2 separate regions of the Homo sapiens genome follow, and region 1 is linked to region 2. The links come from fine-mapping of genetic effects on gene expression. A gene starts in region 2. The other region holds a variant in brackets. All regions are shown on one strand. Distances are between the middles of the regions.

The links. PIP is the estimated chance that this variant, and not a neighbour inherited with it, causes the effect.
Region 1: its variant is the best candidate, but not a certain one, in a credible set for the expression of PRCP in blood mononuclear cells (TOPMed, PIP 0.75).

What each region holds. Positions count from the first base shown.
Region 1 is chr11:82,868,507-82,874,003 of GRCh38, forward strand. All of the region lies in intron 1 of PRCP (prolylcarboxypeptidase), which reads right to left. Among named protein-coding and RNA genes, the nearest start is that of PRCP, 29 kb to the right of the region's middle. The variant A/G (reference allele first, on the strand shown) is at 2,586.
Region 2 is chr11:82,897,081-82,902,316 of GRCh38, forward strand. It overlaps PRCP (prolylcarboxypeptidase), which reads right to left and starts at 3,350. Exons shown (of 9, transcript NM_005040.4): 1 at 3,155-3,350. The coding sequence starts at 3,322. DDIAS (DNA damage induced apoptosis suppressor) reads left to right here and starts at 4,656. Exons shown (of 6, transcript NM_145018.4): 1 at 4,656-4,742. LOC124902602 reads right to left here and starts at 4,975. Exons shown (of 2, transcript XM_047427953.1): 1 at 4,968-4,975; 2 at 3,834-4,601. The coding sequence starts at 4,975. The coding sequence ends at 3,944. RefSeq lists enhancers at 3,076-3,125, 3,246-3,305, 3,456-3,555, 3,836-3,885 and silencers at 4,096-4,145, 4,196-4,285.

The DNA.
Region 1 (5,497 bases), 28 kb before region 2:
CTCAGAAGCCAAAGTCACCACCCTGCCTGAGGAAATTACAGAGGGCTGCACCAAGGAGGTAATATCTGAGCTGAAACACAGAGAAGAATTTTTTTTTTTCAGGTACAAAAGAGCATTTCAAGCAAAGGAAGAAAAACATGTGCAAGGCTATGATGAGCTATACAGAATGAGCATAAATTCAGGAACTGTTGTTTTACGGCAAGAGGTTTATGAGGGGAAGACATGGGAGATGAGATTAGACTCACTGGGCTGCCACAATGGCTCACACCTTTAATCCCAGCGCTTTGGGAGGCTGAGGCGGGAGGATCAAATTGAGGCCAGGAGTTCGAGACCAGCCTGCCCAACATGGCAAAACCTCTTCTCTACAAAAATACAAAAAATTAGCCAGGCATGGTGATACACGCCTATAATCTCAGCTACTTGGGAGGCTGAGGCCCGAGAATCACTTGAACCTGGGAGGCAGAGGTTGCGGTAAGCCAAGATCACACCACTGCATTCCCACCTGGGTGACAGAGCAAGACTCTGTCTCAAAAAATAAATAAATAAATAAGGAAAAAGAAAAACCTAGGCCAGGTGCACTGGCTCACACCTGTAATTCCAACACTTCAGGAGGCCAAGGTGGTAGGATCACTTGAGCCCAGGAGTTCAAGACCAGCCTGGGCAACATAGCAAGACCCTGTCTCTACAAAAAATAAAAATATTAGCCGGGTGTGGTGGTACATGCCTATAGTCCTAGCTACTCAGGACGCTGAGATCAGAGGATCCCTTGAGCCCAGAAGTTCAAGGTTACAGTGAACTATGATCATGCCACTGCACTCCAGCCTGGGCGACAGAGTGAGACTCCATCTCAAAAAAAAAAAAAAAGAAGAAGAAAAGAAGAAAAGAAAGAAGGAAGAAAGGAAGGAAGGAAAGAAAGAAAGCGGTATAGAGAGACAGAAGAAAGAGAAGGAAGGGAAGGGAAAGGAGGAAGGAAAGAAGGAAGAGAGGGAGAAAGGGAGGAAAGAAACCTAGCTGAAATCCAAGATTGTTTCTCTAAACCAACAGTGAATGAAAAACATCCACTGGAAATAGACTCAAATAGGCAGGGACTTTTTTCTGTTTTGTCCACTTCTGAGTACACAGTGACTGGAATAAGGCCTGGCATGTAGTAGAAGACCAATGAATATATAGAGAGTAAATGAATGCATGCATGCATCATGGCTCTGCAGTTGGTATAAAAACAAAAATGAGAATGGAAAGCAAAGTTCCCAAGAAGGTCAAGTTTGTGCAGGTTCATTTATTGGGTGGGTCTGTTCCCAGCTTTGGAAGAGTTGCACAACACTGTAGTTGGATGTGCCTTTTGCCCAGTGACAAATCACATGCCTAATGGAGAACCCAAGCCTTAAATCTAAGAGCACCACATAACATTTGGACTGCTGAGGAAGCAGGAAATGCATGCCTTCTGCTGGGTGAAGAAACAGTTCTATATAACTACAAATAATATGGACAGAAGGCCAACATTGCAGGGAGTGCAGGAGAAGGACTAATCAGCATTTTACCAAAGCATATTACCTAAAATATAATTGATCTTGGTGACAAGGTTATAAGTCAAAGTTTTTAAGACTGGAAAGGACTTTAAAGTCATGGCTGTCAGCCAGGACACAATAACTTTACCTGAGAAACAGCTTTCTGTAAAATGTACAACATAGCAGCTCGTTCAGCAGCATACTAGTGTTTGGTGAATCCACATGTGCTGCAAAATGTTGATTTGATCAATGTGTAAAATTTGTGTTTCCAACAACAGAGTTTTAAGAAGGAAGAAACAGGGAAGAGGTATAATACCCTAGGACAAAAAGTAATTGGAGGGAATAGTTGAGACTCTAGGTAAGTGAGGGATATGTGATGCTGCGAGATCCTGGGAAGGAAGGAGGGAATGGGGTCAATAGCACCAACAGAAGGATCTGACTTGGGAACCCCTTCTCCACTGGGAAACAGATGGATGCAAGAGTTATCTTTCTAATTACCGAGGGAGGAAACTAAAAGGATTCTAGTTAAAATGCCTCTCATATAACACCTTAGTTTTTAGTCAATGAAGTAAAGGGACAAAGTAATCTATTAAAAGAGATAGTAAAAGAGAGCCTAGGATGGCAATGATTTAAAGACAGAGGTAAAAGTTCAGCATGGAAGAAAAAACTGATGCCTAGGCCTCCATAAAGCTCCTGAGGTTGGAGACTGAATTGGTATGCACAATAATCTGCCGCTTAGCAGATATTTACAACCCAGGAGCAGGAGCAGAGAAGTTTAATGGTTGGATAAAACTAGGATGAGAATGTCATAAAGGGGTTGTGAGAGGACAGGGGGCAAGAGAATTAAGGTCATTCCTATCTTCATGCAGCCTGAATATGCCCAGAGCTATGAGGTCCTGTCCACCACAGACAAATGCTGCCATAATCTGTTTGCTGATTTGCAAGGTAATCTAAACTATGCTGTATTTATTCTATTTTAAGGAGTAAATAATCTTGCCAGAACTCATATATATGATATATAAGCATTTCAATAATAATCTCATAAAAATAATGTAAGGCTGCATATCATCAAGGCCTTGA[A/G]AGTTTATATTCTTCTGCTTTGTTAAACATAAGATGATGTGTTACTGATTTTCTTCCTTTATAGTCTATTGTTCTAAATGTTTCTCTTTTTTTTTTTTTTTTTTTTTGAAACAGAATCTGACTCTGTCGCCCAGGCTGGAGTGCAGTGGCATGATCTTGGCTCGTGCAAACTTCGTCTCCTGGGTTCAAGCAATTCTCCTGCCTCAGCCTCTGAGTAGCTGCGACTATGGGCGTGCCCCACCATTCCCTGCTACTTTTTGTATTTTTAGTAGAGACGGGGTTTTGCCATGTTGCCCAGGCTGGTCTCGAACTCCTGAACTCAAGTGATCCACCCGCCTTGCCCTCCCAAAGTGCTGGGATTATAGGCATAAGCCATTGCACCTGGACTGTTCTGAATGTTTCTTCTATACATGCAAAATATTCTCCTGACACCACTGTTATAACTACATCACATCTTCTGAGAGATAGAGGCTGGTATCTGCTGGTATAATGTAAAAGGACAAAGACCCCTCAACCTCCAAAAAAGGCAAAAACCACGTTTCTCACGAACAGGAGTTCAGACCTGTGATCTATGTAACTCACAATCCAATCTTGCATACTACCACTCCTCCTGCAAAGAACTGTGATGACCTCATAAATCTTCTGTTCTCCAACTGAGCAACCCCAGTTCTTACTATTTCCCATATAACACTATATTCTAAAGTCCTCCTAACCCTGCTCACACTGGATTAATTAACATTCCCTCTTACAGATGGTGTGCCCAGAGCTGAGTACAATATGTAACGTGGTCTAATAAAGTGCCTTGCTCATCACTGGCCAGGAATAAATAACCGATGAGTGTGCTTATAGACCTTATCCATGGTTTTGCTTTCTGCAGTTTCAGTTACCCATGGTCAACCATGGTCAGAAAATAGGTGAGTACAGTACAACAAGATATTTTGAGAGAGAGAAAGAGACTACGCGTTCACATAATGTGTCATAGTTGTTTATTATTCATTATTGTTGTTAATCTCTTATTGTGCCTAATTTATAAATAAAACTTTATCACAGGTATGTATGTATAGGAAAAAACATACTATATATAGGGTTCAGTACTAACCGACATCTCTGGCATCTACTGGGGGTCTTGAAACGTATCCCCCGCGAAGAAGGGAGGACTACTGTATAGCTCCAATAACACAGCCTACTTTAAATTGAAAGTCATGTAGGTATACTGGGTTGCATAGCATCCCCCCAAAATTTATGTCCTTCCTAGAACCTCAGAATGTGACTTTATTTAGAAATAGGATCATTGCAGATGTCATTAGTTAAGATGAGGGCATGCTGGAGAGGGGTGGGCCCTTAATCCAATATGACTGGTGTTCTTATAAGAAAAGAAGAGACAAAGAGGCACAGAGAGAAGAATGCCATGTTAAGACACAGATGCACAAAAGCAAAATGGCCATGTGACAATGGAAGCAGAGACTGGAGTCAAGCAGCTTCCAGCAAAAGAACGCCAAGGACTGCCAACAGCCAGCAGAAGCTTAGCGAGGGACACAGACCAGACTCTTCCCCGGAGCCCGGACCAGGCTCTCCCCAGGAGTCCCCAAGAAGTAACCAATCCTGCTGACACCCTGACTTTGGACTTCTGGCCTCGGGAAGTGAGAGGATAAACTTCTATTGTTTTAAGCCTCCTAGTTTGTGATACTCTGCAGCCCTAAGAAACTAATACAGAAGGCCTCTCTATGGAGGTGGCAATGGAACCGAAGCCTGAAGGAGCCAGACAAAGAAAGAACTCTAGAAAGAAGAAACAGAAAATACAAAGAGCCAGAGGCCAGAAAGAGTTTAATGTAGAAAGAGAGATAAGATCAGTGGTGAACAAGAGAGAGAATGGTACTGGATGAGGCTTAGCGCTAAGTGGGCTATGATAGGGAGACTGAACTTAATTTAAAGGCAATAGGAAGCCTTCAAGAGTTTTAAAACTTATTCTGATCTGTTTTTTTTTTTTTAAAAAAAAAGAAAGTAAGAAGAATAAGTAGAAGGCTATTGAAAGGTTCACATGGCACATGATTATGAGAACAAGCCAGGCTTCAAGCCAAGGTATGTCTCTCTTAAATTGCTACATATTTAACATATATGACAATGTTTAATCTCCAAAGTCATAATACACCCCAGAAAGATCTCAATGAAGAAGGACTCAATATATGACATCAGCAGTATTCGTTTAACAACAATCAACAAAAGGAAGTCTTTTGAACAGCTGTAGTCACCACTATAGCCCACTTATAACAGATTCTGCAGTGGCCCTGACTGTGGGCATTTTAAACACGAAATGCCCCACTAAATTGGCAAAAGAGTTCCAAGGCCATCAGGCTCCCCCCAGCATTTAATAGAAGTCAGTAAAGCATATTCTATTGCTACCCTTTTCTCCAAAACCTATTCAAGAAATTGATAGAAGGTAATAAAACTAATTGTTCTCAAATGTTTAGGTCCCGTTCCACCCTGGTGAGATAAAAGACATCAGCAGCCACAATCTTCACTGGTTACCTCTGATGAATTAATAAACTACATGTTTAAAAAAGAAAAAGTACATACAAACATAGTATTACAACATAATGCTAAAATACAACTCTTCTTCTTCCATGGAGAATCTTCTGTGAATGATACCATGAGAACCACTGAAACAGAAAACCTACAACCTCTTTTCAGAGACTGCTTTAAAATAAATTTTTTTATCACATTGAAAAATACATGATGTTAAAGCACTCTGGAAAATTAAACTTTACAAAATCCCCACATGAATAGCATCCACCAAAGGAAGCAGCTGAGGAAAGTAATGTCTAAGTTTTTTCCTCCCTGGAAACTCCAACTCAAATTCGCAGTCCTGATTTCACTATAAAATGTCCTCCAGGGACTTTTTATCATTATCTTAA
Region 2 (5,236 bases):
CCAGAGAGCCCTTTATGACACTGATACCACACATACTACACATGTACCCAGAGCCTCGATGTGCCCAAGTGATGTACTATCCTCTCTCTGGTCTCCTAATTCAGTTATTTCAGGTAAAAGAAATCAAATAGTCCTACCTAACTCAATATTTGAAGACCTTGAAAAAGGAGGAAAAAATAATTAGTAAAGAATTAAAGTAAAAGATAAAAAGAAAAATAAAAAATGATTTGTGACAATTAAATGATGGTAGCCTTTGCTTTGTTTAGGTTCTTTTTGAATAATCATGCATTCACTCTTTCAACAACTATTTATTTTGTGCTTTATACTTTTTTATAGGCTCTTCTAGGTATTGTAGAGTACTAACGAGCTGGAGGGACACATACAATATAGTAAATGTGCAGGATGAAAAAAGACCAACTAAATTTCCTTAAAGAAGTCAAAGATTCGCAGAAGAGGTGAGACATTTCTGCTGGAATAGAATTATGAGTTTAAATAGTGGGGAAGAGGGATGGTATTCCAGACAGAATTTCTGACACAGTAAAAGTCACTTGAGTCTGTTAGGTTGCTAAAAGTGGGAGCTGGGATGGGGAATTATGGCAGAATATAAAGTTGGAACGACCAGCTAGGGTTACATAGTAAGGAACAATGGATTCCCATGCCAAGGTGTTTGGCCTTTATCCTGCAATCAGAGTTATGAAGAATTTCTAAGCAGGGGAGGGATAAGACCATGGGCTAAGCCTTCTTAGAGACCACTCCATAAAACCACATCCTTTATATACATAGAAGGACAGCTGGGTCCAGCTTGGTCACTGGGGCAGATATAACCACAGGTAAATCATTATAAAGTTTAATAAAAATTAAACCTTGAATAAAAAACTAAGCCTTACAGTTTTAATAATAAGTTTATTACTAGAAGGCATCAAAGTATTTCATGTGCTCTAACTTAAAAACTTAAAGTTGAGTTCACACATAGTCCTAACTAAAAATCAATGGTTCAGAAATTGGCAACTAGTATAATTATAATTATGCAATAAATACATATGTAAAAGTTTTCCTCAGAAAATGAAATAAAACTCAATTGGAATAGACAGAAGAAAAATTATTATTATGGTAATAAATACATACGTGGAATCTGTATCCTAAAATATAAATTAAATATAAGCCAGTGGACAAAATGTGGCTGAGTAAAGCTGGACTTTGCATATCATCAAAAATGGAAAAAGAAACAGTGTTGAATTATATTTCTAAGGAGTGTAGTGGCCAAGAAAAGAATCTACAATAAAGGAACATAAATTAGGAACTAAGGTACTAACAACTCATTTGTTCCCTTCCTCTTTTCTGCTGATAGTTCTCTTTTTCATCAATCCCAATGGGATTTTAGAGATCTCCCAATCCAATAGTCCTCCCCACCGTTTTACTTTAGCAGTTGAGTTCTGCAAATAGTTGTATATAAAATCCCAGCATATAAAACAGGTAAAAGCTGAAAGAGATCCAAGAGAGGGTACTAGAGCACCTAATTTGGCCTCCACTTCAGCCTTCATCCACTTTCCCTCTGAAACAGCTCCCCAAAGAGCCCTTAATTTTCCTCAGTAAAGTGTAAAACACATTGGTCCTTGTCCCAACCCTCCTAATTTACAAATGAGGGAATTATGCCCTAGAGAATTAATTTAAGGGAGTTGCCTGAGAAAAAAGATTATTTCCTAGTACCCCTGCTAAAATTAAAATGTTTTCTCTTCCTCATAAACTTGAACTCAAATGTCTGGGTTAAAAATTGTTTCTTGGCTGGGGACACAGTGGCACACGCCTGCAATCCCAGCCCTTTGGGAGGCCAAGACAGGGGCATCGCTTGAGCCCAGGAGTTCAAGACCAGCCTAGGCAAGATGACAAAATCCCATCTCTATTTTTAAAAATAAAAAAATTTTTAAATTATTTCTAAGTTATTCTGGAAGTCTATGACATCCCTCTACCACAAATTCCCATTCCAAATTCACATAAGGGCTGGGCTCAGTGGCTCACACCTGTAATCCCAACACTTTGGGAGGCTGATGCAGAAGGATTATTGAGCCCACAAGTTCAAGACTAGCCTGGGCAACATAGTGAGCCTTGTCTCTGCACAATTAACAACAACAAAATTTCACATAGGTCTATAACCACATATTATATGAGTGCCTACTTGAAGCCAGATACTCTGCTAAGAGTACGTTATCTGCTCTCATTCAACCATCACCACAAACCCCAAGAGATCAAGGAACTAGGCTCACAGAAGTACTGTAACCTGCCCAAGGTCACAGAGCTAGCAGGGTGGAATCCGGTTCTATCTGACTCCTAAAGCCAAGCTTCAGACCCTTGCACTCTTTCTAATCCCAACCTTTTCCAAATCTTTTCCTATTTTTACACAGGCTTTCAGAAATGCTGAACTGTAAGGATTACTTGTCATTTCACAGAGGATGTACTTTTCCATCAAGACCTGTGGGGGAATGCCTCATGCTGCAGCCAAGCACAAAGGCATCAAGCCCAAAAACCTCTAATTTCACGTTACAGACCATAGAAAGGCTAATCCCCACCCCCACCACAAACTCCTACAACTCCTTTTACAAGCATAGGCTACATACATTCAGTCTTATGGGGAATAGGGACTGTCAACAATTCTTAATAATAGGGCTACAAAATCAGCTCTGAGCTGACCCCTTCTGAGAGGCTGGCTTTTAGGATGGATAACTATCCAATATTTTCTAATAGGTAAAGATATTAAAATTTGTATTTAGGGCTGCCTTGGGGCAAAGGATGACTATCACCGCAGACTAGGTACCAGAGCTGGCATTTAATAATTTGAATTTGAGGGAAGGTCAAGGGAGTTCGGATTGGGGCACCCTCTGGGAGCAGAGGGAGTTGAAGTGACTGTCGTGTCCAATTACAGAAAAGCCTGAATCAAGAGTATGCAGCCAAAACTACTACCAAATTATTGGTAATGGGAGGAGAAAATTTAAACAGAACTGGGATTTGGGACCACCTTCTGGAAGATGTTAGCCAAAAACCGAACAGATCCTAGGCATCAAGGGGTGTGAATTTCGAGGTAGGCTCCGTTGCCCGGGCTCTGAGGGTCAGGGTTCCCGGCGGTTGGGCCTGGGACGGCGAAGCCCCCGCTCCCCCTTACCTTCTGTTGGAAGTAGAGAACCGAATAGTTCTTGGCTACAGCCGGGAGGGATGTGGGGTTGGTTGGCAAGTGTAGGCTGCCGAGGGCCCTTAAGGCCGGCCGGAGGGCTATGGTGGCCCAGGGCGCCAGAAAAGACAGAAGCAGGAGCAGGAGGGCTCGGCGGCCCATGGCTCAGGCTGGAGACTGCAGTGCGGGTGGGAGGGCGAAAAGGAGGCCAGCAGAAGCGCACAGGCTAAGCCCTGCCCAGCCTGCAGCTCCGCCCGCCGCAAAACAGCTCCTCCCAGGGGAAACCCAAAGCCAGCCAGCTCCTCAGAGACGCCGCCCAAGCCAGGTCACCACAGCCACTCCGCCCCCATCCCCGAGGACACCGCCTCCACTCCACTTTCCTCTCGTGCCATCTGCTCCTTAGCACTCACCTTCATTGCGGTCACACCCCAAGTCTGCCCTTATCATGCTAGGGCCTCTTCCTAACTCATCGCTGTAGCCCATGCTTTATCTATAGCGCCCCCGAAGCCCACCTGTCCTTCAGGTCACCCAATATCCCTACCATTATCATCACCACCAAACCCTGCCCTGGCCACCGCAATTCCATTGCGACACCTCCTGCCTTCCGCAAATCCTACGTAACGGCAATAACAGCTACCATGACAATTTATTGAAGGTTCACTACAGGCCAGTGTATCACGAGGCAGGGAGGCACACGCATCATCTCCTCTAACTAAATCGTCACAGCAATCTTGTGCGTCGTATATGATTGTTATTCCCATCTACAGATGTGGAAACTGAGGCTCAGAGAGGTGCGGGAACTTGCACTAGATCACTCAGCAGTGAGCGGAGCACGTCGTCGCAGACCGCTGGGTCCAGGTCCAAAGACTGTGCTCCTTGCACCCACCTCCATCTGGAGCCTAACCACTCCCTATGATACTCCGTTCTTGGGTCACCCCAAAACTGTGTTGCTCGCACAACCCATCCATTACACAGGTCGCCCCGGGTCCACATCGCCCCTAAATCCCGCCAGGTCCCGGTCCCTTCTTTCAAATAACGCCCCCTTTCTTCTCCGGCACCCGAAAACCCACTCCGCGCTCCACCCCCCTCCTGCCTCCTGCCACCGCCCCCTTCCTCCCTCCGCCCGTGGGTAGTGCTAGCCCCTAGGACAGCGCCGGGTCTGGCTTCCAAAGCTCCCTCAACCCTCTTCATCCAGCTTCCATTCCCTCTTTCAGTCACCCCGCCAGACCCCAGGGCGCTGCGGCTCACTCCACACTTTCCCGGGAACCCTACGCCCAGGAGGCTCAGCGAAGCTCCAAAACCAATTTTACGGACTGTACTACTGATCCACCTGTCGGGGAGAAAGACTCTACCCGCAGTTTGACGAAAATGGTCGTTTCCAGATGCTTGTAGGATTTCCTCGCTAAGCTCCACCCTCTGCGGCGCCTTCTTCTGATTGGCTCTGAGTAATCAGAGCCAAAGCGTTACTTCCGGCGGAAAAGGACGCGGGAGATTCGATTGGAAGGCTGCCGGCGTGCTACTGAGTTCGGCCGGTCCGAGTCACTGTGCGTCGCCTGGGCCCGTTCCTGGTCTTCTCCCCCAGGTGAGCTGGGTAAAGGGGTTCTCGGGAAGCCGAAGAGCCGGAGACTCCTAAGGAGGCTCTTAACTTCATTATGAATGAGACCCACCCAGAGCCCGGCGCTTGTTTTTTCACAAGTGGTTCTCTGTAAACGGGCAGCCATGAGGGTAACAGAATATAAACGTCAGTTATTTTATTTTAGACTCAGTGCTTTTGCAATCACCTAACGAACGTTTATTGAACACTTACAGTGCCATCGAGCTAGACTCGGAGTGAGCTTTTAGAATCGGAAATAGAGAGGAAAAGGCGCGACTCTTGCTTCTGTAATGTGCAAATACGTATTCAGTGGGCCACTGTGCAGAGTAGTACGTGCTGAAAGGGGATCTTCCAAAATGCTATGATGGCTTAGAAGGAACATATTTTAACTGAGCCATGTGCTTAAACCAGAGCTTGAAAGTTTTCTTCCTTTTCACATCCAGCCAGTCCCTACCAGCCTCTTGAATATCTCAGATCTGTTC